Homo sapiens: one gene and its partners. The protein of the gene in region 4 interacts with the protein of the main gene of each other region in a biochemical or structural test. Each region holds a gene or a part of one and is shown on either strand. Other genes may lie near its edges. The genes, in order: SHROOM3, CRHR1, JAG1, ARHGAP21, SLC22A11, SLC2A1 and PLEKHA2.

What was found.
Region 1: the proteins of ARHGAP21 (region 4) and SHROOM3 interact in a test that uses a peptide from one of them, tested with the Homo sapiens proteins (one large-scale study listed by IntAct).
Region 2: the proteins of ARHGAP21 (region 4) and CRHR1 interact in a test that uses a peptide from one of them, tested with the Homo sapiens proteins (one large-scale study listed by IntAct).
Region 3: the proteins of ARHGAP21 (region 4) and JAG1 interact in a test that uses a peptide from one of them, tested with the Homo sapiens proteins (one large-scale study listed by IntAct).
Region 5: the proteins of ARHGAP21 (region 4) and SLC22A11 interact in a test that uses a peptide from one of them, tested with the Homo sapiens proteins (one large-scale study listed by IntAct).
Region 6: the proteins of ARHGAP21 (region 4) and SLC2A1 interact in a test that uses a peptide from one of them, tested with the Homo sapiens proteins (one large-scale study listed by IntAct).
Region 7: the proteins of ARHGAP21 (region 4) and PLEKHA2 interact in a test that uses a peptide from one of them, tested with the Homo sapiens proteins (one large-scale study listed by IntAct).

Annotation. Positions count from the first base shown.
Region 1 is NC_000004.12:76,742,632-76,746,711, forward strand, and holds part of SHROOM3 (protein Shroom3), read left to right. Parts: intron 1-176; exon of another isoform or gene 177-269; intron 270-4,080. UniProt on the Homo sapiens protein: Controls cell shape changes in the neuroepithelium during neural tube closure. Induces apical constriction in epithelial cells by promoting the apical accumulation of F-actin and myosin II, and probably by bundling stress fibers.
Region 2 is NC_000017.11:45,818,345-45,822,424, forward strand, and holds part of CRHR1 (corticotropin-releasing factor receptor 1 isoform 2 precursor), read left to right. Parts: intron 1-3,010; coding exon 3,011-3,096; intron 3,097-4,080.
Region 3 is NC_000020.11:10,653,119-10,657,198, forward strand, and holds part of JAG1 (protein jagged-1 precursor), read right to left. Parts: intron 3,341-4,080; coding exon 3,280-3,340; intron 1-3,279. UniProt on the Homo sapiens protein: Ligand for multiple Notch receptors and involved in the mediation of Notch signaling. May be involved in cell-fate decisions during hematopoiesis. Seems to be involved in early and late stages of mammalian cardiovascular development.
Region 4 is NC_000010.11:24,713,375-24,717,454, forward strand, and holds part of ARHGAP21 (rho GTPase-activating protein 21), read right to left. Parts: intron 1-4,080. UniProt on the Homo sapiens protein: Functions as a GTPase-activating protein (GAP) for RHOA and CDC42. Downstream partner of ARF1 which may control Golgi apparatus structure and function. Also required for CTNNA1 recruitment to adherens junctions.
Region 5 is NC_000011.10:64,562,151-64,566,230, reverse strand, and holds part of SLC22A11 (solute carrier family 22 member 11), read right to left. Parts: coding exon 4,073-4,080; intron 3,965-4,072; coding exon 3,796-3,964; intron 1,924-3,795; coding exon 1,803-1,923; intron 1,010-1,802; coding exon 894-1,009; intron 1-893. UniProt on the Homo sapiens protein: Antiporter that mediates the transport of conjugated steroids and other specific organic anions at the basal membrane of syncytiotrophoblast and at the apical membrane of proximal tubule epithelial cells, in exchange for anionic compounds.
Region 6 is NC_000001.11:42,951,982-42,956,061, forward strand, and holds part of SLC2A1 (solute carrier family 2, facilitated glucose transporter member 1), read right to left. Parts: intron 1-4,080. UniProt on the Homo sapiens protein: Facilitative glucose transporter, which is responsible for constitutive or basal glucose uptake. Has a very broad substrate specificity; can transport a wide range of aldoses including both pentoses and hexoses.
Region 7 is NC_000008.11:38,949,720-38,953,799, reverse strand, and holds part of PLEKHA2 (pleckstrin homology domain-containing family A member 2), read right to left. Parts: intron 2,951-4,080; coding exon 2,810-2,950; intron 1,635-2,809; coding exon 1,488-1,634; intron 1,165-1,487; coding exon 1,096-1,164; intron 504-1,095; coding exon 433-503; intron 1-432. UniProt on the Homo sapiens protein: Binds specifically to phosphatidylinositol 3,4-diphosphate (PtdIns3,4P2), but not to other phosphoinositides. May recruit other proteins to the plasma membrane.

The DNA of each region.
Region 1 (4,080 bases), on a different chromosome or scaffold from region 4:
GTACTTTCCCCTGAAAATTTTAAGCAGTGCTGGGAATAGAAGCTGAGCATTCTGACTCCTAGGAGCCTGTTAATTTCCCTAATTCTTAGCCTATCCTCAGGCTTCACTTCCACTGTAGACCAGGGGCCTGCCTCATGCTTCCCTTCCCACCAAAGACAATAATAGGAATCACATACCTGTTAGCACAGGGGAGGAAGAACTCCGCTCCACTCTCCCCTCTCAGATTCTGCTGTTTTCCCTTTCAGAGAAGTCAGCCATTCAGCAAGCATCTGTAGAGCATGTGTTGTATGAAAAATGCTGTGTTACAGCATCAAAGGATACACAAAAGGAAAAAATAAGGCTCATGCCTTTCTGGAGTTCACAGTTAAGCAAGGAATACGACCTTATATGTATAAATCTAATATGACTAGTGAATGCTTTGGGAATAGTGATCAATAATATGCTATGGAAAGGAAAGTGATTAATTCTGAGGTGATCTGAAAGTGCTTCTCCTGAAGGGAAATGGGATTTTGGGCCAGGATGTAAAAGATGGGCATGATGACAAGAGATTAGGGGAGAGGGGATGCATTGATGGGAAGAAACCAGTTCAGACAAAGAAAGATTCAGCAGTTCTGGCTGAGAAGTTTGCTGCACTCTATCACACGCATACAGCAACAAATGCTACTTGCTCTTACCAGTCAGATGCTTATAGGGCAGGATTTTACAAGTTTTTGACAAGGATTTAGCTCTTTTTCAAAATTCTCATTAGGGAGGCCTTTCTGCCTCCAAAAACAAAGTCATCATGGAAATCAGTTCCTCTGTATGTGACGATTGATCCATCTCTGGCCTGAAATAATGACTGCAGGAGGCTACCATTTTGAACTACTTGTAGCCTGAGACCTTCTCATATATTTGGCAGGTCTGGCCTCTTCCTCAGCCAGCTTGAAATCCTCTCTGAAACATGCAACCTTCTATTTTCTTCTCCTTTAATTCCTCTTCATTGCAGAACAATAGATACTAGTGATGGAGCTTAAGTGCACATCAGACTCTTGCCTGTTTCCTTCTGAGAGAAAATACCGTCCCCTCCCAGATGTTTTCTGTTTAGAATTGTACAGAAATATTTTCTCCCAGTATAAATCCCCGACAAATATAGAGGCAACTTCCCATAAGCCTTCAGTAGCCTTTTCCTTCCTTCAGAATGAACAGAGCTAATTCCCACTCCCTATCCTACCACTAACACACATTTAAAATCCATATATGTAACACACAATTTCATTTAGCTTGATGGATTTTAGCAACTTAACTGCATAGCAGTCTAGACACCTTCCTTTCTCTCCCCGTGTTTCAAAGAAAATAAAAATGCTTAGGTGAAAACCAAATCATTATTGTTTATTCCCCATTAGATATTGTTATTTTGTCTTAGAGGTTGGTTGGATGGCTATGAATGTTATTTTATCTTTCCCCCCAAATATTTCTTAAGCCTGGTTGATTAAGAAATAAAGCTAAAACATAGGCGTTGGGAGAAGTGAAGAGATTCCTCCAAATCCCAATTAAATACTTTGTATTATTTGGAAAACTTTTTAGAAAGACAAGTGAATACAAAACAGTACTTGGGCACCCTTTTCATAAAGGGAATGCCATATTTAGATGTTATTTAATTTGGGGAATATGCAGGCAGAGAGGGAAATATTTCCAAATGAAATACTTCTTTTGTACTGCTTTGCTCCAACAAATACTGAAATTTCTGAACAATGCATAGTCTCTTATATTGTCACTGTGCCAGGACTGCATTCTTGAGCTTCCTCCCTCTCCTGGTCTCCTGCACAGCAGCCAGACCTTAGCTGACTGGAGAAGCATCTCATGGCAAGGCGGTCTGCTCCTTGCATCCTCTTCATCATCTGCCTTATTTGTAGTTATGATGAGTAAAAAATAAAACAAAGTTACTCTCACCACATAACTATTGTGGTTATTATATACATATTTTTCCTATTGAATAAATTTCAAGAACATTATCAGTAAGCTTTTGGGAAGGTTTGTTAATCAATCATTTTTCTCATCCTTGCTTTAGAGAATTCTGACAAGTTAAGTGAACTTGTAGAGACTGTCTGCCTGAGTTAAAACCACAATGTGGAGTGTGTTTCTGCTGCTGGCTTAGTTGATGCTATCTCCAACAAATGTTGCTTGCTCTTACCAGTCAGATGCTGACAGGGCAGGATTTTACAAGTTTTTGACAAGGATTTAGCTCTTTTTCAAAATTCTCATTAGTGAGGCCTTTCTGCCTCCAAAAACAAAGTCATCATGGAAATCAGTTCCTCTGTATGTGACAATCGATCCATCTCTGGCCTGAAATAATGACTGCAGGAGGCTACCATTTTGAACTACTTGTAGCCTGAGACCTTCTCATGTATTTGGCAGGTCTGGCCTCTCCTCAGCCAGCTTGAAATCCTCTCTGAAACATGCAACCTTCTATTTTCCTCTCCTTTAATTCCTCTTCATTGCAGAACAAATAGATATTAGTGATGGAGCTTAAGTGCACATCAGACTCTTGCCTGTTTCCACTTTCTTTCTGTGAGACCTTGGAAAAGTTAACCTGTTAAAAGTGGGTAGGACCTGCAAAGCTATAGAAAGATAGCCAACATTTCTGCCTTAGAGACAGAAATGTATATCTGTTCATTGCATAGATTTAAAATATAGTAGAGACTATAAAGAGAAACCCTTGGAGAAATAAGATTACTGGTGGGGATATTTCCCCCGGATGCTGAGTTAGAGACTTCTCTGGTTCTCACAGTATTTTCAGGGAACTTCATGTCTGATGTGTAACATAATCACTATGAGATGGTGTGACAAACATTACTGAATTGCTGAGGAAATTGCTCAATGCATGGAACCACAGTATTGGATATAGGCTTGATTCTGTGGAATGCAACTCATAAGTCTTTTTTAGCACCTTTCTACAAGCACACATTTAAGCTTATACAAAATAGAATTGACTTTCCACAAAATGTGAAGATACAAATAGCTAACAATAATCAAATTTTTGCTGTGTGCCAGTCATTGTACTGTGTTTTATAAGTATAAAATTAGTCTTGGCTGGGTGCAGTGGTGCACACCTGTAATCCCAGCACCTTGGGAGGCCGAGGTGGCTAGATTGCTTGAGGCCAGGAGTTCGAGATCAGCCTGGCCAACATGGCAAAAACCCATCTCTACTAAAAATACAAAAATTAGCTAGGCATGGTGGTGTGCATCTGTAGTCCCAGCTACTTGGGAGACTGAGGCACGAGAATCGCTTGAACTCACGAGGCAGAGGTTGCAGTGAGCTGAGATAGCGCCACTTCCCTCCAGCCTGGGCAACAGAGCAAGACTCTGTCTCAAAAAATAAAATAAAATAAAATTATTCCTCACATCTGTGCAATGAGGTAAATACTATTATTATCTCTAAGTTACAGAAGAAGGAACCAAGTCACCAAGAGGGTACAAAATTTGCCCAAGGTAGTAGAGTGAGGTTTTCACCCCATACTGTCTGACTGCAGAGTCTTTAAGTCACTATACCATGCCATCTCCTGAATAAAAAGAGGCTGGGAATGGGGAAACAGAGGCAAGAGTTAAATGTTCTATATCTGAAAATATCATCCAATGAATTTATTTCATTTTAACATTTATTACTATTTCAGTCATGCATCATATAATGGTCAAGGATGGACCACATATGTGACAGTGGTCCCATAAGATTATAATACCATACTTTTACTGTATCTTCTCCATGTTTAGATACAAAAATACATACCATTGTATTGCAACTGCCTACAGTATTCAGCACAGTAATATGCTGTAACAGGTTTGTAGCCTAGGAGCAATAGGCCTATACCATATAGCCTAGGGATGTAGTAGTCTATGTCATCTAGTTTCTGTAAGCACACTCTATAATGTTTGCACAAGGACAAAATTGCCTAATGATGCATTTCTCAGAACATATCCCTGTTGTTAAGTGACACATGACTGTATTTTTCACATCAGATTTTTCATAAGGATTTCTAGTTATTTTTAGTAGTTACTTGAAATATTCTAAAGTAGGTGAATATTGTCTTCACATTTCATCAGTGA
Region 2 (4,080 bases), on a different chromosome or scaffold from region 4:
GGTTACTTGACATGCTCCAGATAAACATTTTCAGCCCTCAGTGCCTGGGCACACACTTCACTTGCTGGCCCTGCCTGAAGTGGCAGTCAGGAGTCCTAAGTTCTCATTCCAGCTGCATCTGCAGCTGGTTAAGTAGCCCTTGGCACAGACCTTCTGTGGGCCTCAGTTTCTACACCTGCAGAATGGGTGGGAGGATTGAGTGTGGTGCTCTCTAGGCTCCCCCGCACTTCCCTCTGTGATCCCAGGAAAGGAGCTGGGGTGATGGCCTCTCGACATGGGGTCAGTCTGTGAGGGCAGGGCTGGAAGACCCCTTTCCAGGTGCCTCCAGCGCCAGATGAGGTGGAGCACGCCCGTGCAGTCAGTCACAAGTGGGTACCCAGAGCTGCACCTCATCATTAAGCACTAATTAATCCATTTACTGATGAGTTGCTGCCAGGACTTCTAGGCCTTCTCCCTAATGCCCTCCCTCCTGCTGCATCTGATCTTCAAAGGGATGGGAAGCATTTCCAAAAATATCTATTTTCCCGTGATTCTTTGGGAGGACTGCTCAGCTCAGCAATTAAAGACAAGGAGGTCGCATCCTCCCTGGCAACGGCTCCCTGCTTGTTGGGCCTGCTTTCTTTCGGATCACCTCCTTTCTCCCCATCAAAGCCTGCTCCCTCTGGGTGACCCAGCCTCTGATGGGACTCCTGACTCTCCCCCACATGTCAAGGGGGGCAAGGGTGTTGAGCAAAGGGGCTCCTCCCACAATATCCACCGGTACCCTTTGATGGGGACAAGGGACACGCTCTGAGTCTCACGTAAGGTTATATAAATACAGCTCCAAGACAATAATAATAAAAATAACAGCCAACATCACATCCCAGGTACAGTTCCAAGCACCTTGTGCATGTTAACTAAAAATATTCAACTCTTGATGTAGGAGCTGCTATTCAGATGCTCTCACTTACAGAGGAGGAAGCTGACAGGTTTCGGGATTTGCCCAAGGTCACACAGCTAGTGGAAGGTAGTGCCAGGATTTGATGCTAGGCTGTCTGGGTCCAGGGGCCACGCTCTTAGCACTACTCCATGCTGCCTCTTAACTCAAGAACCACCCCACCCCATCCCACCACCCCCGGGCCCCTTCCAGCCGGATCTCTGTCCCAAAGCCCCTATCCCTGGAGGTATTTCAGAGCAGCCTCTGGTCCCGGGACTTCCCAGCCATGGCAGAGACACTGGGTTCTCCTGGTTCCTCGTCTCACCCTCCCCTCAGACCTCCATGAAAACCCACTGGGTGAGCCTCAGCCCTCCGGTAACTCATCCCTCATTTGGCAATTGGAGAGAATCAGCAGCCTCTTCACCAACTCTGCCCAAGGGCCTGAGGCTCCCTGAGACTGCGGTCCACTGACATGGAAGAGCTTTAAAAATCCATTTAGCCGGATCTCCCACTGGCCAGCTGTAGCTGAGCAGCTCCTCAGCAGGGGGACCAGGGAGGGGAATGGAGGGGAGTAGTGCGAGAGAGGAGAGGCCACATCTACTTTTCAGCCCTGGAGGCCAGGACGGGCTCCCTATCATCACCTTCTTGTCCTGATGCTGCCAGCAGAGGCAGCTCCCAGGCTGGATGGTCCCTTGGGGATCAGCCAGTCCAGCCCCTCCTTTTATAAATGAGAAGGGGTCCCCAGAGGTCAGTCATGCAGCACGGCAGCAGCTCAGCTGGTCCCAGGGCCCCAGCCTCTAGATCCTCACAGGGTTCTGCCCCATGGGGCTCCAGACTCAAGGACTGGGACTCCAGCAGCTTTCCCAGCCCTGTTCCAGCCCCAAGGGCCACTGGGAGCCACAGGAAGGCCTACAGTGAGGGAGGCTCCAGGTGAGATACTCAGGGCTTCATTTCTCTGCCAGGCAGTTCTGCCTGAAGTCAGAGCCAGAATTAACTCAAGGAAGCATGTTTAGAGCTACTGATGCCAGAGCCGGGTACAGGGTGGGGTGGGGCAACCTCTGCCAGCAGAGAAGATGAGATGGAATTTAGAACTCATGCTGTCCCTTCCCAGCTAGGTTTTAGGACCCTGGAGCTCAAGCCTGGTAGGCATGAAGGAGGGTAAGGGGAACACGTTGGGCAGCTCTGCCCATCCCAGGGCCCTAAAGCCAGGCATCAATTCAGCTCACAGGGCCCCTCCCCATCTCCTTAGAAGGTGACAGGTTCTGGGCCACAGTCCAGGCCGGTGGCTGCACAAACCTCCATATGTCCCTGGGCCACTCTCCTGCCTTCCTCCTTGAGTGACATGGGCCAGGCTAGGAGCAGCTGTGACAGACCTGAGTGATGACATCTCCCCACACACGCCTGTCACCTGTCATTTTCTGTCCAAGAGACCTCCATCATGGATGTTCCCCCCACCCACAGACCACGACCTTCCAACACAGGCCCGCTATGGGGAAGTGCCACCATGGGACCTTCCCCAAGATCTGCCCCATGAACTCTGAGCCCCCATGTGCAGCACAGCCAGTGAGGACCTCCCACGGCAGCCTCTGTGAGATGGCTCTACCACAAGAAGCCCTGTCATGCCACCTGCCACGCGAGCTGTCACCGCATACCCTTCCACCGTGTCATGCCCAGCCTCGTGAAAATTGACTCATGAGGTCTCACCATTTTTTTGCTGTCTTGCAAGACCCCTGAAAAGGAGATTTCTCAGAAGAGCACCTACCTGTCATCTGCCACCACATAATGACTTGCAAAGGAACAGCCCAGGGAGCTGGTCAAGCCTGTCCACGGGCCAGTCCTGTGGGCATGATCATGCCAGCTTGAGTGGGCAGAGCCGGGGGAGCCACCAACCCCTGCTGGAGGCCAATGGGCAGAAAGAGGCAGGAAGATGGGGGTGGTAAGGAAGCCCCTCTCCCCAGCTTCACTACACAACCCCCAGCCAGCAGGTGCCTGTACTGGCCATCTACAGATCCATCTACGCATCCATCTGGGCCAGGATGGTCAGGCAGGGGCCGGGGCTGCCCCGCCATCACTGCCTCTCTCTTCCTTTTCCAGACAATGGCTACCGGGAGTGCCTGGCCAATGGCAGCTGGGCCGCCCGCGTGAATTACTCCGAGTGCCAGGAGATCCTCAATGAGGAGGTGAGGCTGAGCCGAACAAGGCTGCCCATATGGAGGGGAGTCCAGGGTCCCCAGCAGAGTTTTGTGCCTGCTACTTGGAGTCAGGGAGCCAGAGGCTAATGTCAAGGCCCTGCTCTAGTGAAGCTGACTGGGGAGCTGGAGCTGTCAACTTGGAAAAGGCCCATGAGCAGGCGCCCTCGAGGGCAGGCTGGACCAATGGGGCACTGGGCAGGCTCTGATGGTGATGAGATGGGTCCTTGTTCCTTCCTTCCTTCTCCCTGTGCTCATCGGGCAGCCGCTTGCACTGGGCATGGGACTGTCCTGGGGGTGCAAAGGGAGACCAGACTCGGTCACAGGAGTCCCACCCTTTTCCACAACACATGCCTGAGAGATACATCCAGTTCCAGCCACAGGGCTGTATGGAAACCAGGGACGGGATGGAGGTAGCAATGCAGTTTGAAAAAGCCCTTGGAAAGCCTTTTAAAATGTTAAATGTTTTTGAGCAGATATTGCTTACACAGAACTCAGAAGGTACAAATGGGAATACAATGTCCCCTCCCACCCCGTCCCCAGCCACTGGATTCCCTCCCAGAGGCAACCATTTTGCCAATTTCACAAGTGTCCTTCCAGAGACATTCTCCGCATACACGAGTAATTTTGTATACGTATTCTTTTTTGTTTTTACCTGAATGTTGCATGTTATACACACTGTCTACACCTTGCTTTTTTCATATAATCATCTATCTTAGAGATGGTTCCATATCAGTACATAAAGAGCATCTTCATTCTTTTTGCATTTGCATAATATCACAAAATGTACCATAACTTATTTAAACCAGTCTTTATTCTCAGTCTTTAGTTATTACAAATGCTGCTGCAATGAATAATCTTTGAAGGGTGATATTTGGCAGAGGCACAAATATATCTATCCTGGAGCTGCTACTGCCCTCGGTCTCTCCCACCCTGTCTCCTTTCCCACCCGACGCTTTCTCCCTTGGTGCTGAG
Region 3 (4,080 bases), on a different chromosome or scaffold from region 4:
GAAAGGGGCACCCTCCCTTGGCCAAAGCCAGAGTAGGCTCTCTAAACCCACTTCTATAGGGAAGGAGAAGGAAATGACAACACTTGGAACCAACTCCATAATTTGTGTCCCATTACTGTGTGCTAATTTATAGTGATTTCTTGCTTTGCCAAGAAAAGAAAAAAAAAAGAAAGCAGTCTGCTTAATTTATCTAGTATTGGCGGAGTTGAGGTTCTTTTATATAAGCACCTTGATTAATCATACTCTTTTGGGGCCAAATAGTGCCTCTGATCCCCAAGCAAAAACAAAAACAAATACAACAACTTTCATCTGGGGTGGGAGAGGGGGCAGCGTCTCAAACCACTCTCCCTTGAATTTTCAAGCCCTCTGAAACTTTAATTGCCTTCTCAAGAGCCAAGCTTTAACAAGGGTGGGGGAAGGCAGGGAGAAACATCAACTAGCCTCCCGGTGGAGCGTGGAGGGTGGAGGGTGGAGGGTGGGGTGCGGGTGGGATGGGCAACATGTTTCCAGAACGGGACCTGGGAAAAGCCACGATCAGCGCCAACCCCCTAAGCTGCTCAGCTGTAACTCTGGAAAACAACCCCCGCCCCCTCTAGCTCCCCAGAAGGAAAGGCTTTCGGTTTCCCAAGAGCGGGAGGCAGGCTAGCAAATCCTTGTCATGGGAAAATTATAGGGATCTAGCTAATAGCTAATCACCCACGGCTGAGAGTCAACTTAACCCCTGAGAATACTGACTAACCACTTCCTAACTTCTGAAACCAAGCTATGCACACCCACATGCAAAGAAATCACTAGAATGTGTGGTTTAAAGTTAGACACTGGATTCTGGTTTATGTAAAATGGAATGTCAACGTGACAAGTGACTAAAGGAGTAAGATAAGAACAAAATTACAATCTAAATAATTTCTCAAAAGCGGACACCCACGTTAGTGGGAGGTAAGGGTGTAGCCATTCTGTCAAGGCTGATATTCTTAGCCTGAAAGATAGTAAGAGGGAACTGATTACGAAATGGCAATATTCTCACCGTCTTCCCTTATTCTCTTCCAAATTCAGGATCACTAGCCCTCTTCAAGTTGCCTCATAAAGGCAAGGAGAGGCAGCTGAGGACCCAACCTCACCTAATTAAAGAGACCTCAATCCCCAAGCATAAAAAAGCAACCACAAGAGGCCATGGATGACTTCAAAAGAAAACAAATAAAAATACTGACCCTAAAAGAGGCACCAACCAAGTTATCCCAGTTTAATAATATATGATTAAGATTCTCATGAGAAATTGAAGTGACTTTCCTCAGATGATGATTCATAATTAAGTTTGATATTATTGGCAGGCTTGCAATAAGCAAGCATGTATACCCAGGGAAAGGGACTCAGTCTACTTGGGAACAACAAAAACCAGTAAATTTTCTCATGTGGGGGTGAAAAAAAAAATAACCTGTGTAATACATAATCCAAAAGACAACTTGCAGGTAACTTGCCATTCAACTATTTCTGCAGCAGGACACAACCTGAACTTCCTCAGCGTGAAGGTTCTGTTTTGACTTTCTTTCAAGGTAGGGAGGGAAAACTGGGCTGGGAGACTATGCAAATGATGTGTGGGAAAGTCGCACCTTAAGTAAATAAGGCCATCAGTGCGTGTCTGGGCAGGGAGAGGGAGGTGGGACTTCGAAAGAGAAAGGGCTAAATTCTGGAAACAAAGCCTGTTGTTCTGGCTGGGAGGGCCCTCCCCTGTATAGCTGTATGTGTGTTCTGATGACAGCAGCACAAATCACAGTCGGCCTCCGCTGATATCCATCTGAGCAGGCAGCAGGCTTGGAATCACTAATAGCACTGCCATTGGGACTTTCTCCAGAACACCCTTAATTAGGAAGAGTTAAGGTAGGTGGATTCCTGCTCCGCATTGGACAGCAATGCTGTTAAATACTACAGTCCATCGCCACCAATGGGAGACAGCAGGAGAAGCCCCTCAGCCTTCCAGGAAATAAACTATCTTTCTGAAGTGTAGGAAGAGACAATTCGGGACAACCAGTTCTTAATTTAGTTCCATGTTCCCCCTTGCATGGGAGGGGAACAGACGGAGCGGTGGAATCATAAAGGTAAAGGCCACAGATAGTTCTCTTTAAAGGAGTAGCCTCAAAATTTACTAAGCAGCAAAGTCATGTGGCCAGCTTGTCAAATGCAGACTCCTGGGCCAAACCAAGGACTAGGATTCTATGGATGTGGGACGGAGCCCACGAACCTGCATTTTAACAGCTCCCTTGTTAATTCTGGAAGTTACACTTTGAGTACTGAGGTCTGGGGGCAGTGATTGCTGATGGTTCCATCAGCAGCATCGCTTGGGAGCTTGTTAGAAATGCAGAAACCTGGGCTCAGCCCAGACCTATAGAATCAGGACCTGCGTTTTAATAAGAGCCCCAAATAACATTAGTTTGGGACATACTGGTTTAGACTATGTTTCATAAGATTCCCTTTACTCATGTCAGAGTAGCTTTGGGGGCAAAAGTGACAGGCTCAAAGGATCCATTTAGCGTTACTCCTTAAAATTTGGGAGGAGGGAGAGCAAAGCATTAAGACTGCCAAAAACACCACAGACACCAACAATATTTCCCAAAATAAGCCTTTTCCAAACGGGCGTAATATAAATTTCAAGAAGTTCCAAAACCCGCCATCGTGAAGTGGTCAGGGCAGGCCTCCCTTTGGCTTCCGCATTGTTCCTGGACCATAAAGGAACAGACTTCAAAGGACTGCAGCAAAAGTCTACATTCATCAGGCTCAACTGACAAGATTCCAGGGCAGCCATTAACCTCTCAGCACCAACCCAGCTCCCGCCTGCAAAGGGGCCAGGAGATTGGACTAATCCCATTCTAAAGAATGCTGGACTTTCGCCTATTGATGGGAAAAGTCGGGGAGGGGGCTGGGAGAAGAAAGCCTTGGTGGAAGAGGAGAGAGACGCAAAGAAACAAGCCCACATCCCTCCATCTAGCCCATCAGCACTATAAGGGAAGATTATAAAAATGTGTTATCAATTTACAGAACAGTTAATACATGAAGTCACTGGCTATGCCCAAAGAGTTTCTTTTTATTCCAAGAGAGAAGTGGTGTGTGCATTCCACCAGACAGCTGGTATAATTTAATAAGCTTCGGATGTGTCTATCTGAATTTTTTTTTTAAAAAAGCTTTCTTGTTCTCCAAGGAAAAAAGAGGCATAGTCACAATAAAGTCAGTTCCTCTCTTACATAAAGGAAAATTAAAAGAAATCTCACAAAAGACCAGTTGATTTACCTGCAGTCACCTGGGAGTTTGCAAGACCCATGCTTAGGACTGCAGCCTTGTCGGCAAATAGCTGTAAAAAACAGAGAAGGGCGTGTCAGCACACTGCCTGTTCCTTGCATCGCCCCGGTCATGAGAATGGCCCATTGCATTAAAGTCTGCAAATTCCACGATTTTAACAGGTCTCATATCAAGTCCCTTGTAAGGAGAGGAAGATGGGAGGGGCCCAAATAACAAAACCAGCTTTAAACTTCAAGGCCTTGTTAGCAGATTCTGAAAACATGATATTGTTTGGGGACAAAATGCAGACAAGTTGACGAGGGAAGGGGGACCTTCGTCCAGCCTCTCTAAACCACAGCTACCCTGGCTCCTTGAGCAGAGCTTGGTCAGTTTCCATTCTGCCCACACCCTTTTCATTAGAAGAAAAAAAGGTATAGATAATCCTTCCCCATCCCACCAGGACACATTCAGATGAGCCTCAGCCTTTAAAAAAAAAAAAAAAAAAAAAAACAACCCATACCAAATGCCTGGTTTGAAAATTCCATGGGACTAACAGAGCCAGCCAGGCTGGACTCATTGGGCAGGCTAATCTGGTGGCCAGATCTGGTGAGACTTTTATAAAGTATCCTTGCAGAGCAATTCTCTACTTCGTTTAAAAAAAAGAAAAAAGTAACTTCTAAAAAATGTCAGTTTCTAAGACCAGGCAACAGTGGCCCATGCCTATAATCCCAACACTTTGGGAGATTGAGGCAGAAGGATAGCTTGAGGCCAGGAGTTCGAGACCAGCCTCAACAACATAGCAAGACTATGTCT
Region 4 (4,080 bases):
GAAAACTCAGCAGCTAGTCACCAGGGAAAAGTAAATAAAGTCTTTAACTTCCCTGTTTTTTTATTTTTATTTTTTACAATAATAAACAGTTTCTTCTGATCTGTCTACTTACCCCGAAACAGATGAATAGTCAGAAATATCAAATTTGGGTTCTCAATCTATTCTTTTATTCACAAATCTACATAGTGGAAATTCTTGCACATTAAATAGATAACTAGAAGAGGACTTATAAAACATTTCCATCACATCAAGTTTCTTTTTTTCTTTTTTTTTTTTTTTAAGTGATGGGGGTCTCCCTATTTGGTCCAGGCTGGTCTCAAACTCCTGGGCTCAAGCAATCCTCCCGACTCTACCTCCCAAAGTACTGGGATGACAGGCATTAGCCACCACGTCCAGCCCACATCAAGTTTCTCAAACCTATAGTACAATATATCCATTTGTCTTTTGGATTATTTGAGAAGCACAAAATGCCATCATCCAGATTAGATTGTGAAATAATTTGCACAATACCCAATTTTATAAGAACATGGCAACTTAAACCATAAAACTATTTTAGTGAAAGCAATCCAAAATTGAGTTTTTTGCATTTAGATATCTTTCTACTTCAAACCAGGGAAGATATGGAAGGCTTACAATATTTTAACACATTTAATTACTTACAGTCAATTAAAATTAGATAAAATAGTAGGACAATCTTTAAGTCCAATAACCTTTCGTTTTAGTAATCTAATCACATCAACTAGACAGAAAAACAAGTGCCTACCATATGGTCTTTCTGTAACAGAAAATAGCTGCATTGAATAACAGCATCTGTGCATCTTATCAACGCTAGCATTGCCCATACTTAAATCAGCATATTGTTAACTATAATAAGAAGACAGGACCCTTCACAAAGCAAAGAACAAAAGAAACTGAATATTACCTTTGTGCTAGATTACTTGACCTGGTAGTAACTAAAGAAATGAAGAACATCAAGGCACAATGAACTTCATAAAACGCTTAACCTGGAAGAAATGAATGGGAAGGAACACTAACAATTTACGGAGAAATTCTTTAGATCTGGGTACTCACTTTGCTGATGGCTCTTATCTAGTGATAGGCCCCACTCAATACATTAAAATCCAGGCTTCTGCCGAAATGCCACTTAATGATCCCTGCTGCTGCTACTGCCATCATTCTCAATTCTAACAGGTTTTAGCTTTAACCCTAACTTGCAGCATAAAACTTTTGGCATGGAACAGTATTCTGACACTTAAATTCAGGTGTATGAAGAAACACAAAATTAAAATTAAATAATAGAGTTATACCATACTGTAACTAGTCTAGAATGAATCCTATGCCTCCAATGAAGAAACTTGCTTTTTAAAAATTGTTTTTTGGCCGGGCACGGTGGTTCACGCCTGTAATCCTAGCACTTTGGGAGGCCACAGTAGGCAGATCACAAGGTCAGGAGATCGAGACCATCCTAACACGGTGAAACCCCGTCTCTACTAAAAATACAAAAAATTAGCCAGGCATGGTGGCGGGCGCCTGTAGTCCCAGCTACTCGGGAGGCTGAGGCAGGAGAAAGGCATGAGCCCGCGAGGCAGAGCTTTCAGTGAGCCAAGATCACGCCACTGCACTCCAGCCTGGGCGACAGAGTGAGAGTCCATCTCAAAAAAAAAAAGAAAAGAAAAGAAAAGAAAAAGAAAAAATTGTTTTTTAAGTGTTGCTTTGAGCAGTGTGTATGCTTTTTAGTATTGTTTTAAGCAGTGTAGGTTTGCCACAAACCAAATTTTCACAAGACTGAATACATATTACCTATTTTTAAAGTCTATACATAGTGTTCTTTTATTGTCATTTTGGTAATAAAAAAGAGAAAATGTAAAAATAATATAATCCTGATATTCTCATCATTCAGAATAAACAACTGTTAACATTTCATCACGGTCAATGTTTGTGATCTTTTTTTAACTGGTTATGAAATATTTATGACATGAAAAAATAAAAATACATAATAAGGAACATCCATATACTAGCCATTCGTTTTAAGAAATAAAACATCATCCATACAGATTATCTTTTTATAGCTTCTCTTATCGACCAGTCTGATTGCCCTTTCACTTGTCTGTTAATTATCATGATCTCATCTCTTAGTGGAAATTGTTTCATACATTTGTACTACACATTGTCTTGGTTACTGTTACTTGGTTACCAGCTTCCCAAAGGTAAAAAAGGTGCAAAGAAAAAAGGCACCAAAAATTTTAACAGCAGTTCTAACGGAAATGAAATAGAATTTAAGGTGGGCAGGAGGTCTAAGGAAGAACATATTTCATACTGTACATATTTTATATAAACTAAAATAAGTATTCAGCTGGGCGCAGTGGCTCACACCTGTAATTCCAGCACTTTGGGAGGATGAGGTGGGTGGATCACTTTGAGATCAGGAGTTCGAGACCAGCCTGGGCAACATGGCAAAACCCCATCTCTACTAAACATACAAAAATTAACCAGGCATGCTGGCACACGCCTGTAATCCCAGCTACTCAGGAGGCTGAGGCAGGAGAATCACTTGAGCCTGGGAGGCGGAGGTTGCTGTGAGCGCAGATTGCACCACTGCACTCAAGCCTGCGTGACAATGCAAGGCTCTGTCTCAAAAAGAAATAAAATAAATAAGAATTCACATACTACATGTCCAAATGCAAACTCAGTAACATTTTGGAGTTTTGCTAAGTCTTTATTCATTCCAAAAACATATTTATTGACAACCTATTATGTGCTAGGCACTCTTCTAGGCACAAGAAACACAATGTGAACAAAACAGACAAACTGCACTCTCAACACCTGCGTTCTAGATATATTACCTGTCTCAAATAAACAAACAAAATCAAATGCATAAGCATGCCGGGTGGAGACTAAGTGATAGGGAGATAAAGCAAGGAAGGAAGGCAGAGCATGGCACAGGGAGCAGGGGAGGGGCATTCAACAAAGGGAGTGGTTGGCAAAGCTTCACTCGGAAGGTGACCTCTAAGCAAAAGCCCGAAGGAGCCAAGGAAGCAAGCTGTGCAGAGACTGGGGGAAGTGTTCTAAGGGGAGGGTTCAGTGAGTGGGAAGGCTCTGGGGACTCCCACGTTTGTGTACATGCAGAAAAGCAAGAGACCAGAATGGCTAGCACAGAGTGAGGCGGGAAGAGGCACAGGAGGTGCGCTCAGGGAGGGGGAAGGACCAATTATACAGGGCTTTGCAGGTCACTGCAAGAACTTTGGCCTTCAATCTTCAGAGAAATGAGAAGCCATTTGAGGAATTTGAGCAAAGGAATGACACAACTTGATTTATAAATTGTCTGTCCTGATTGCTGTGTGGAGAACAGGCTTTAGGCTGGCAAGGACTGAAGTGGAGAAATCAGTCAACCAGATCCACATGTCATATATGAGAAAAAAGAGAGACATCAAAGATCACTCCAAGATGCCTGGCCTGGAAGGATGGGATTGCTATTGCTTGAGATGAGGAAGACTGGAAGGAGCATACTTGGGAAGGTGGGCCAGGGGAATGGAGGTAGAGTCAGGATTGTGGTTTTAGATATGCCTATTTACTATTCAAATGGAGATTCTAGGCAGTCAGGTCAGTTGGATATAGGAATCTGATTCTGCGAGACAGAGGAGCAGGTCAGCAATAGAGATATACACATGTACACATAAAGAAATATAAGTGAGTGTGTGTGTGTCAATTATCTGCATATACTTGATATTTAAAACCATGAAACAGTATTGGGAGAAGAAATGAGGATTAACTGAGCTTTGAGGTGTAGAAAGGTTTAGCAAATCAGGATGTCGAGGAAACCTCAAAGAGACAGAAGGAGGTGACAACGAGGAAGGAAGATAATCAAGAGAGTATAATGTCCGGGAATCTAAATGAACACTGAATAAAATGTAAAGCCTTTCCTGCATATTCATTTATTCATTCAAAAAATATCACCTGACACTTACTATGTGTCAGTCCCTGTGGAAACAAACATGGTCCCTGCTCTTATAGGGACTGCAATCCAAGGGGGATATAGATAAACTTGTAACTGGTATTCCTGAAAGTGCAGGGTGTTTTGAG
Region 5 (4,080 bases), on a different chromosome or scaffold from region 4:
CCTGTCGCCCAGGCTGGAGTGCAGTAGCACAATCTCAGCTCAGTGCAGCCTCTATCTCCTGGGCTCCAGTGATCCTCCTGCCTCATTTTTTGATTTTTAGTAGCGATGAGAGGGTCTTACTATGTTACCCAGGCTGGTCTTGAACTCCTGGGCTCAAGCGATCCTCCTGCCTCAGCCTCCCAAAGTGAGGGATTACAGGCTTGAGCCACCGCGCCTGACTGGTCCTTGCTTTTTAATATGCTCTTTTGGATGTCACCGGAACTGAATTTGTTTTAAGGGCCTTTTCCTGGGCCCAGATGACCTTGGGTCCCGGGGAGGGCCAGGGTCTGGTCGCGCGGGCCCTGGCAGTGACAGTGCCGGTAAGCCAAGTGTTAGCTCAGCCCGGTTCCAATGCAGGCTCTATTATTTTGGGCTTGTTCCTTACCCCTCTGGGATCCTCTTTCCCCATCAGTGAAGTGGGGTTGCATGGAGGGGTCAGCGAATGCAGGTTCACCCTCTAGGAGCATGGCCATGGTCTCTAGGAAAGTGGTAAGTCTCTAACGATGACACACAGTGGTACTCCTCGGCCGTGGCTGGTCCCCTGGCTCTAGGGACCCTGGCTCTGCCTCTGTCTTGGGACCTCCCTGGGACCCTGGGACCCCCAGCCTAGAGCTGCCTTTTCCTCTGGCTTCCTGCAGATGGCAGCCTCCAGATCCCACCTGTGCATAGTCCCTCTCTGCTGCCTGCCAGGACTCCTGCCTGCTGGGGCTGTCTGCGTCCTGTCCCAGACAGAAATGCACCCCCTTGAGGCCTGCGGGTGCTGTTTCCCCTGGACGCTCTGCCTCCTGCCTGTCCCAGCTCTGCCTCCTGCCTGTCCCAGCCCTGCCTTGGGGAGGGACACCAGGACGGCGTACTTCACCACCAGCATGGCGCAGCTCCTCCAGCGGAGCACGGGCACGCAGAACAGGTCCAGCACCGACCGCGGCTCCTTTGCAGAGGCCACCTCCTCCTTCACGCTGGACATCAGCACCTTCCGGGGAGAATGGGGGCACCGTGAATGGTAGGGCAATGGCCCTGCCCCACCCCCTGTGCCAGAGAACAGTGTCCAAGTGGCCAGAGTGACGGGGAGCCTGTCCTGGGCCTCGGCCTCTGGAAGCTGGATCCCTAGGGGAAGGGGAGGGGATGGGGCAGAAAAGGTTCTCTCCAGGCCCTGGCTCTTCTGCAGGTTTGACTCAGCCCTGGTCCTCTCAGCTCTAGCTTGCCTCCTTCTGGAAGCCTTCCCTTATCCTCCGACCCCATCTTCACTCTAATCTCTGGCAGCGCCTGTTTCCTGAAAGCAGCTACCTTCAAATAAACACATTCTGTTTCCCCAGACACATCGAGAACCCCCATGAGGTGGGTGCGTGCTACATGCAGGTGGAGGTGGTGGGTGATGGAGGTGACGGTGTGGGTGCTGTTGATAATGATGGTGCTGTTACCGATGGTGACGATGGTGGTGAAGGTGGTGGAGATGTTTTGCAGAGATGGTGGCTGTGGGGTTAGTGATGGTATTGGTGGTGCTGGTGGTGATGGAGTGATGGCAGTGAAGGTGATGGTGGGTGTGGACAGTGGTGGTGCTGTTGGTGATGGTATCGGGATTGGTGGTGGTGGTGGTGGTGTCTGTGTGGAGGTGGTGATGGAGGTGTTGGTGGTGTCTGTGGAGATGCTGGTGGTGGTGCTGGTGGAGGTGGTGCTGGAGTGGGTGGTGCTGTTGGAGGCCACACGGATGATCCCTCAGTGCACGTCCTGTCCCAGGTCAAGTCTCGCAGACAGCAGCATCTCACCTCTATGGTCAGGTTCTTGGCCTCCTTGTGGCCATTTATCCTGGCCACCTTTCTGAGCTCCTGAAGTGCTTGGTCTGGTTTGCCCTTAATAATCAGCCACCGGGCGGATTCTGGCAGCCACCTGTAAGGAGGCAGGTGTGTAGCTGGGAGTGCACGCTGGGCTCTCCCCCGGGGCGGGGTGGAAAGGGGCAGTGGGCACGGACCCTCCAGCTGAGATGAGTGATGAGGAAGCACATGCTTCTGTGCCGCTGCTGCCCAGCCAGGAGCCTGGCAGTCCCCAGCGGTTTCAGAATAAAGCTGAGTCCCAATGCCTGGCCGCCCACCTTCCCAAGCGAGCCACCTCCATCTGGCTCGCCTGGCTGCCCGGGGCCTGCCCACCTGAGCCCTGCACACAGCCAGGGCACAGGTGGCCTGGGCATGGGTGTCCCTAGAGTTGGCTGCTTCACCAGTGATTCTGGGGCTATTTCTAGGATAGAAAGGTCACTTGGTGCTGGGTTTTTTTGTTTTTTTTTTGAGATGGAGTCTCACTCTGTCACCCAGGCTGGAGTGTAGTGGTGCGATCTTGGCTCACTGCAACCTCCACCTCCCAGGTTCAAGTGATTCTCCTGCCTCAGCCTCCTGAGTAGCAGGGTCTACAGGTGTGCACCACCATGGCTAATTTTTTTGTATTTTTAGTAGAGATGGGGTTTCACCATGTTAGCCAGGATGGTCTTGATCTTCTGACCTTGTGATCCACCTGCCTCAGCCTCCAAAGTGCTGGGATTACAGGCTTGAGCCACTGTGCCCGGCCTTTTTTTTTTTTTTTTTTTTTTTTTTTTAGCACATTTAAAATATCCCCAGGCAGAACCAGGTGATTTTATAAAACCAGTCTATTTCTCCCCAACCTCAGGGGCAGGTGGGCCAGGAGAAACACTTTCCTGGTGGAAGGCACAGGATCTGCCCAACCCACCGGCTCTCAGCCCTGTTTGCAGGGAAGCTAAGAAGGACTTCTGGAGGCAGTCTGACGTAGTGGTGAAGAGTTAGCCTGCCTAGGTTCAAATCCTGCCTCTGGCATTCACCGGCTGTGTGTGACCTTGGGTGAGTGACCTAACCTTTCTAGGTCTCGGTCCTTCATTTGAAAATGGTGGTAATCGCATCATCTTACTTATTAGAAGGTGTGTTAATACGCACCTAGTGTTATAAACTGCACCTGGTACACACCTGATCAGCGTGGCGGGGATGGCCTAATTATTGTAATTATGGGATGGCCTTCCTCTTCACTTATTGATCTGTGTATGAAACGTAAGCTCCACGGGGCCACTGGTTTTTGCCTGTTTTGTTCACTTGTGTGTCCCCAGCACCTAAGACCCTCTGCACCTGTCTGTGTCTCCTTCCTCAGTGCCAACCCAAGGAGGGATTTCCAGACCTTAGGGATTTTTGCGGCCCCTAAAATTGTAGTGACAACAATCTATTTTCATATCCAATGTTGGTCCGCACTGTATGTGAAGGAGTGAAGCTGGTGGGTGGGGGCTGGTGCAAGTATTGAGGAAGGACGATGCTCACAGCCTCAGCCCAGGGGACAGCGGCAGTGGGGCCTTGGGGACCGGGAGAGCGGCCGCTTCCACTGTGGCCGAAGTTCAGCCCAGTGCCCCTGGATCTTCCAGTTTTTCCAAAGAAGGTAAAAAATACTGTTTTTGTTTGTTTTTGAAAATCTTCTGATTTTTAAATGTTAGCAACTAGTTACAAATGTATTTTTTAAATCACCATTTGAGCCAATGCTGTGCCAGCCCATCTTGGCCTGTCTGGGCTGGATGGGAGCCACGGACCTCGGGCTGCAACACTTAGCCCAGGACTGCCAATCACCAATGTCCCTCCCTAGCGAGGGTGCCGCTCATGCCATGGCCCTTCTGTGGCACTCCAGGTCTCTGGACCTACTGCCAGCCAGAGAGGTGAAAGTGAAGAGTCCCCCTCCCACCCTGGGTCTCCTAAGGAAAAGGTCCCACATCATACTGACCAGGATATCAGGGAGATGGCAAAGAAGGGCACTGATGCTGCCAGCTGGAGAGTCCTCCAGTCCCGCAGGGCAAAGGCCAGGCCGCCCAGCGCCGCCTGGCCTGCGCTGAAGGCACATCCCACCACCGTCATGGTGACCGCCCTCCTGCTGGTCGTGGTCCACTCCACCACTGAAGGATGCAGACACGTGCAGGTGAGGCCTCATGCGGCGGCCTGAGCCCCATTCTCTCCTGCCACCCCCGCCCCCATGGCAGGAGCGCGCTGAGCCGGGGACTCACTCAGTGTC
Region 6 (4,080 bases), on a different chromosome or scaffold from region 4:
CTAGATGGGAGGGGGCATCCTCACTGGTCAGGGGGCCAGGATGGGTGATGAGGGGGCCCAGATATCCACAGCATGGGGCAGGCAGGGGCAAGGATGGGGTCAACAGATGATGGGCATTTGCACTAGGACACTGCATTCACAAGACCAACTACTGAAGGGATATGTGTCTCAGGCTGTTCATTCTGGAATAAGCAGGGGTGATCTTTATATCACATTCTGTGGCTGGTGGGCTCAAAGGCTACTTTGTGGAGAGAATGAGACCATGCAGTGAAAATGAGGATCAGGATCAAGCCCACAAATAGCCCGGGCTTCTAGGCAGCACTGTGTCCCCCACAGTGCTGATGACATAGCTGGCTGCCGGGCCACTCAGGCCCACACTCAGCCTAGCGCTTGGCTGGAGGAGATTCCCGTAGAGGCTGATGCAGTCGATCAGCGAGTTGGGGATAAGGACTTCCATCACCAGGTTGTAGATGGTGATGATGCCAGCCATGACCGCTGGGACACTGGACTTCAGGATCAGCTCCAGCCGCATAAGGGCCAGGGCCACGAGGCAGTGCTGCTCTAGGCTGTGCCACAGACAGCACACAGGGCTGTGGGATGGAGGCAAGGCGAGCCCAGAGCAGAATCTGTTTACCTGGGGCCAGAACCCTCTGGGAATAGCTTCTGCACAGCTGTGAGGGCCACACCCAAGTTATCACACGCAGCAGGGAGCTGAAGGCAGCCCCCACCTAGGGGCAGGAAGTCCTCAAGAAGAACTGCCACAGCTGGGTGATCAAGGAGCCCAGTGTAGCTGTTTGTTTCTTTCCTTGAACTGGGCCCTCCAGCCCAAGAGAGTCCACCTCTTCCTCCAGCAGAGGTGCTTATGGCTAGCTGGCCTGTCTGGGCTCCCACTGTGCTATGAAACCCAATCTGTGCTGCTCAGCACTCCCCAAGCCTGCTGCACAGACCACATGCTCCCCTGGAGCCTCAGTGCCGCTGACCCAGACAGCTAGCTCTCATCCCCAGTACAGCTGAGGACACAAGCTCCAACAAGAAGTGTGGCTGGCCTAAGGTCCAATGGTAGAGCTGTTTCTGATGGAGCCGTTTCCTCCCCACTCCCAAATGCCAGGGCAGGGGGAGATAAACTGGGCTAGGAGACATAGGCAGACTTCCTGTCCAGCAGAGGCCTCAGTAGCCAAAGGCTCCATCAGCTGAGGCCTGGCAAGAGCTCTCTCCCATTCCAGGGTGCAGAAGCCTCAGGGAGGCAAGTCAGTGTGGTCACAAAGAGAGGAGATGCTGTCTTCTTTCTGCCCAGGTTCAAGGCCTGGGAGCCCTGCTCAGTTACTGCAAAACCCTAATGTTTATGCATCAGCTACTGCCAGGCCTGGTGGCTGGAAGACAGAGCCTCAGGCTCCAGTCCACCCCTCCCGTGGAGAGAGGTAACAATTGGAGGCTTGTTAGGGTAGCCAGGGCTGGGCCTGCAGGCCTGGACACAGCCTCTCTGAGCCCATGAATCTGGTCAGGAGGCCTCCCAGCCTCCGCCATCATGGGGACGTCGGTTACCAGACTGCAGACTGAGTGAGCGGCTTTATCACCTTTATGCCCAGGAGTGAGGTGGGGGAAGGGGTGAGGTTGCAGGCCCCAAGCCAACACTGCACACTTTCCTCTTTGTTCCAGGCCTCCCCAGCTTTGCCAGTCTTGGGGAAGCAGGGAGCTGGATGGCTGTACCCTTGGTACTTGAGCAGAGCTCTGGGCCGACACCCCGTGACCAGGAGGCACTGGGCAAAGCTGAGCTCCTTGAAGTCACAAGCTGATTACGGGGGATTTGAGGCTGGCCCAGCTCCGGGGCAAATAGGGTCGAATCCCTGGATGGCTCGGTACTAGACAAGGATCATCTTGGGGCTGTTTACATCATTTGTACACCCAGACTGGCCTTACAAAGGGTCTTTCCACTTAAAATAGCCACTTCTCTAATTTAGGGCACGGGGCCAGTCTCACCACATCCACTGGGGGTAGCCAAGTCTCTATTTACTGAGAAGGAAACCAAGGCTCCAAGGAAAGCCACTTCTTCAAGGTCAGAGTTTAGTGGGAACATCTAGTGTTTTGTTTCCATTCACAGTAGAGTTTCAGTTGTCAAGTTACGTCTAATCCAACTTTCAGGCTCCTATGGCATGGCAAGTCCTGTGTCTGGGGATTCCTGCTCATTTGGGGTGGGTGGAGGATGGCACAGACAGGCATGTGGAGAAGAAAGCATCTTTAAAAAAAAAACACAGCTAGGCCAGGCGCGGTGGCTCACACCTGTAATCCCAGCACTTTGGGAGGCCGAGGTGGGCGGATCACCTGAGGTCTGGAGTTCGAGACCAGCTTGACCAACATGAAGAAACCCCATCTCTACTAAAAAAAAATACAAAAAAATTAGCCGGGCATGGTGGCACATGCCTGTAATCCCAGCTACTCGGGAGGCTGAGGCAGGAGAACCACTAGAACCTGGGAGGCGAAGGTTGTGGTGAGCTGAGATTGTGTCATGGCACTCCAGCCTGGGCAACAAGAGCGAAACTCCGTCTCAAAAATCAAAACAAAACACAGCTCCATAGAACGCCTCAAATCTTTTGTGATAGCCTTATCTCGGACAAATCTCTTCCCTTCTCTGGACTCAATTTCCCCATTTGTCAAATGGAGGGCTGGGCCATGGCTGGAAGGCCCCTCCTGCTCTGGGTTCCTTCCACCCTCTAATGTCATCCTGGAAAGGCTGGCAGCATGTCTTGGGGTGGGAGGCTCAGTGTGTGATCTTGGCAAAGTCATTTTTTATTGGACCATGAGGTCACTGTAACTTGTATCACAGGGCAGTTGTGAGGACCCTTGGAGTTAATGGACATGAATGTCCCTTTCAAACTATCCCAAGGGTGACCCAAATTCAGAAAGGTAGGCAGGAAGCCTAAGGCAAAAAAGCAAAGCAAAGAAGCCCAAAGCAGCGCAGGGCACTCACATGAGCTGACCCTCCCTGGCCTGGCACTCTCACCCATGTGCCATGCCTACTCACTTCCCAACAAGCCCCTACTAGGAAGAATGGGTTAGTGGGAGCTTTAATGATTTACCTGACTTAATACCCATGGGCCAGCATCCTGACTCCCCAAAAGCTCATACTGCCAGAATGCCAGCTTTTGGATAAAGGCCAAGGCCCAGGTACAAGTCACCCACAGCCCAGGTAAGGCATCATGGGAGTCCAAGGAAGCAAGAAATATTTATGGAGCATCTATGGGGACAGAGACGTACATTCTTTTCTGAATTCCTAGACACTGTAATGATGAAAACTGGGCAACTAAGCTAAGCTGGGATTCAAAACCACATATGCAAACATCTATGTTTGGCCGGGTGCGGTAGCTCACGCCTGTAATCCCAACACTTTGGGAGGCTGAAGTGGGCGGATCACCTGAGCTCAAGAGTTCGAGACCAGCCTGGGCAACATGGCGAAACCCTGTCTCTACCAAAAATACAAAAATTTAGCTGGGCACGGTGACGCATGTCTGTGGTTCCAGCTACTCAAGAGGCTGAGGTGACAGAATCGCTTGAGCCTGGGAGGTAGAGGTTGCAGTAAGCCAAGATACTTGCCTGGGTGACAGAGTGAGACCTCGTCTCAAAAAAAGACAAAAAACAAAAAACTATGCTGTCTGCACCACAAAGGGGCTGAGAAAGCCTGCAGATTTCTGATTTTTCCTTTTCTGGAAGGTAGAGACTGGCCAGAAAAGTGATGAGTGATGGGCATAGGCAAGGCTAGTTACAAGTTCTTCACGAAGGGTGGGGTGAGACATCTGGGGCAGGGCTCACCCTTGCGTGCTGCCCAGGAGAGATCGTGGGCGAACCCCTGGCTTGTAGGCAAGGTGATTCCATCTGTCCCCTACTTCCTATTCAGCTAAGCTCATTACTGTGAGTTACAGAGGAGCACAATGGAACACGGGGAAGTTAGTTAAGTCAGTTCCCATTTCCTAGGAGACAAAGAGGAACATAGCAGAACCAAGGCTTTGGAGCCAGACACACCTGGTTTTCAGATCTTGTGTGAAAGGCAAGCGATATGACCTCCCCAGGCCTCTAACATCATGCACA
Region 7 (4,080 bases), on a different chromosome or scaffold from region 4:
GGAATAAGAAGGTCAGGGAAGAGGCACTAGTACAGTGATCTGACCAGAAGCACTGAGGTGAGTGACCTAGAGGCGTGGTCTCTCCTCTGAGCCTGTGTTCTGCTAGGGATTGAGCATCTAATCCTAACACCTGAGAAGCTTCGGAGCCCCACTCTTTGTTTCTATACCCTTTCTTTTTGCCCACCAGAAACTATTACGTAGGCCTATCTGCTTAGGAGCCAGAGTAAGGTATGGGAAGAGGGCAAGTGTGCCCAGGGCGGTCTCCTCCCTGTGTTAGCTTGGATGCAGTGAGTCAGCCACAAGGTGTTAGGCTCCTGTGCCTGGCTCTTGGAAGAAGATGACTCTTGCATAGAGTCTCTGAAGGGTAGTAAAGGGAGATTTAAGAGGACAAATGGAGGTTTGGATTAGAAGAGAAAAAGCAGACACAATTACCCAGACTTGACCAGACATTCATGGGTCTTCAGAACATCCTTAAGAAATATGGTGCGCAGTGGTTCTCGGTCCTGGTGGAAAGAACAGAAAGACAGGTAAGTGAGGCTGTCTGTGTCATATCACGACCCAGACCAGCTGACCAATACCCCTTTCTCAGAGATGGTTGGCTAAAATCAGGTTGACAAATAATCTGGTCTCAAAATAATCAGCAAGAGAAAAAAAAATCTGGCTGGGCAGAGTGGCTCATGCCTGTAATACCAGGACTTTGGAAGGCCAAGGCTGGAGGATTGCTTGAGGCCAGGAGTTCAAGACCAGCCTGGGCAACATAGTGAAATCCTGTCTCTACAAAAAATCCACCACTGTGCTCCAGCCTGGGTGACAGGTGACAGAGAAAGACCCTGTCTCCAAAAACAAGAAAAAAGACAAAAAAATATAAGAAGAAGATGTTGTGTAGCTATGACTCTGACCACACAGCAGCTCACTGCAGAGAGGACACTTTAGTGTCACTGTAAAGATGTGTGCACAGAATGGAGATAAGACAGAGGCGCCTTTGAAGTCTTTGTGTGCCCACATCTCCACTCATGCACGCTCTCCTGTGGGTGTGCACCTATGCACCTCTTAGTTTCCATGACCTCTCAGAAGGGCAGCAAAGCTACTACAAACCTGCTCACACTTGAAGTAGCAGATGGTAAAGTCATCAAGTGCAAAGAAGCGACGTTTCCAGCTCTTCCGCTGTAATAAAAAAATAAAAGGCAGACCATTAGCGAGAGGTGCCCAGCATTGTGGAGGGTGTACTCATGCTAAGCTCCCAAGGACCCAGCCCCATGGAAGTCCGGCTCCCACATTCAGCAGGGGCAAGGGCTTCTTCATATCAGGGGCAACACCTCTGACAGGTGGGAGCCAAAGGTCAGTCCCAAAATCTCACCCTCAAAGGTGGAGGCTCCATGGAGGACTGAGGCACCTCCTGTCAATCCCCTCTCACCTCTGCTATGTCTACAGCCACTGGCTCTGAGGAGTCACCAGAACCCCAATTCAGCCCCTGTGCTGACACTCACCACATTCCCTTGCTTCACGCAGTAACCACTCTTAATGAGGGGAGGCCCAGTGGAAGCACGGCAGCCTGACGTGGGGATGTAACTCTGAGACCTTCGAAGGATGGTGTGGGACCCGGGCTCACTCCCTTCCTGCCCATCCCCACCGTTCTGCAAGGAAACAGTGTCAGTATCAGCGCCTCCCTCCCTCTATGCAGCCACAGCCCCACCTACCTCCCTCTGCCTGAATCTCTGGCCTCTTTGCCCTAAGTCAAAGAAGAAATAAATGGTGGGCACAGTGGCTCACGCCTGTAATCCCAACACTTTGGGAGGCCAAGGCAGGAGGATCGCTTGAGCCCAGGAGTTCTAGACCAGACTGGACAACACAGTGAGACCCAGTCTCTACAAAAAAATTAAAAATTGTTTTAAAATTTTTGTTTAATTTTGATTTTAAAATTTAAAAATTAAAAAAAAGAATTACCCAGGCGTGTAGTCCCAGCTACTCAGGAAGCAGAGGTTGGAGGATGGCTTCAGCCCAGGAGTCTGACACTGAAGTGAGCCATGATTGCACCACTGCACTTCAGTCTGGGCAACACAGCGAGACCTTGTCTCTAAAAAAATTAAATAACAACATGGCAAAACCCCATCTCCAACAAAAAATACAAAAAAATTTAGCCAGGCGTGGTGGCACATGCCTGTGGTCCCAGATGAGGTGGGAGGATCACTTGAGCCTAGGAAGGCTGAGGCAGGAGGATTGCATGAGCCTAGGAGGCAGACGCTGCAATAAGCCGTGATTATGTGTATATGCACTTCAGGCTGGGTGACAGAGGGACACCCCATCTCAAAAAAAAAAAAAAAAAAAAAAAACTTAAATAAATATAAATAATTAAAACAGGAAAATAAACCTTTCCTTTCTCTGTCATGCACTCTACTGGGTACTTTCACAGAACCAGCATCAGGGAGGTTGGGCCGACCCAGGAGAAAGGGAAGGATAGGGAATGTGAACCAGCAGGGACACCAGGCTGGTTTCCAGCCTTGTTTGCCATGCTCTGTCCCATTTCCTATGGTTTCACAAACCCTCATCTTCTGTGTCTCCCGTGTTCGGCACAGAACTGCACAGGCCACATGGCTTCAAGATGCAGCAGCCTCCACTTCCGCACTGCCGTCACTAACACCCATGAATGGGGATGTAACATGACCTGTACTTTCCTGATGGCTCCACTGGCACCAGCTGCCCCCCACTCCCACCCTCCTTTTCCCCAGTACAGTGCTCCGAGCACATCATGGGCACACCATGGACACTTCCACACCCCCACTCCCCCCGCAGCCCCAGTCAGGCCCCTCACCTGGCTGATGGGTGTGTGGACCACCACCCCTCCAATGATCTCCGTCTTGTAGGCCACCTGTGGCTTCTTCTCCAGGGCTGGAGGAGCTGCTAAGCTCTTGAGAACTTCAGTGGTCATGGGTAGGCCCCCACCTTTGGGAACCTGGGGTGAGCGGCAGCAACAATCAATGGGGAACAGAACATTTAGGAAACATGGGGAGCCCAAAACAGAATGGGGCTGCCGTGAGAAAAGCTCATGTGCCAAATTACAGTCAGACTTGCGTGTCCTCCCCAAGCCTTCCACAGTCCAAATCTGAATATGAGCATCTCAACCAGCAACGCCCTCCCCCTACACAGATACAAACTGACTCCAGGAATTTCTTGAGCGCCTACTTATGAGCCAGCCCTTCCCTGGCTAGAAACCAAAGATAAAGTGTCAAGCGAAACACACGTGGGTCCCCACCTTCACGGCACTTACATGCTAGTAGGGGGAATGACAAAAAAAAACGTAAAACAAACAGAGTAATTACAAATGGTGGTGAGTGGCACAAAGAAGATCAAGAGAGCTGAGGCAGCGCACAGCAGGGGACCTGCTGGAAACAGAGTGGGCAGGGAGGTCTCTAGAGGAGAAGGCAGGGAGACACTCAAACGGCAACCTGGAGGGTAAGCAGGAGATGGGGGCCAGGTCCGGGGCCTCACACCTGTAACCCCAGCACTTTGGGAGGCCAAGGCAGGAGGGTCACTTGAGCCCAGGAGTTCAAGACCAGCCTGGGGAACATAGTGAGATCCCATCTCTACTAAAAATGAAAAAAAAAATTAGCCAGGTGTGGTAGCACACAGCTGCTCAACAGGCCAAGGTAGGAGAATCTCTTGAGCCCAGGAATTGGAGGCTGAAGTGAGCTATAATCACACCACTGTACTCCAGGCTAGGTGACAGAGACCCTGTCTCGAAAAAAATACAAAATAAAAAACTAAATAAAAGGAACCAGGAACATGAAGCTGGGAGAAGGCATTCTGGGCAGATTGAACAGGTAAAAATGCATGCATGCCTTTGTAGAGACAGAACAAGGGGTCCATGAAGTCTGGAGCCAGAAGATGTGTGGTATAACCCTTCACCTCTCACGAACCACCTGAGAGACCTTTGGCAACCATCAAACCTTTCTAGGCCTAAACCGTCTCATGCATAAAATGAAAAGTGGAATAATATTTATCATAACCATCGTTGTGGTTATCAAATGATAGAGTATATTAAATGCTTTAGAAACACAACTAAAAAGAAAAACATATTACAAA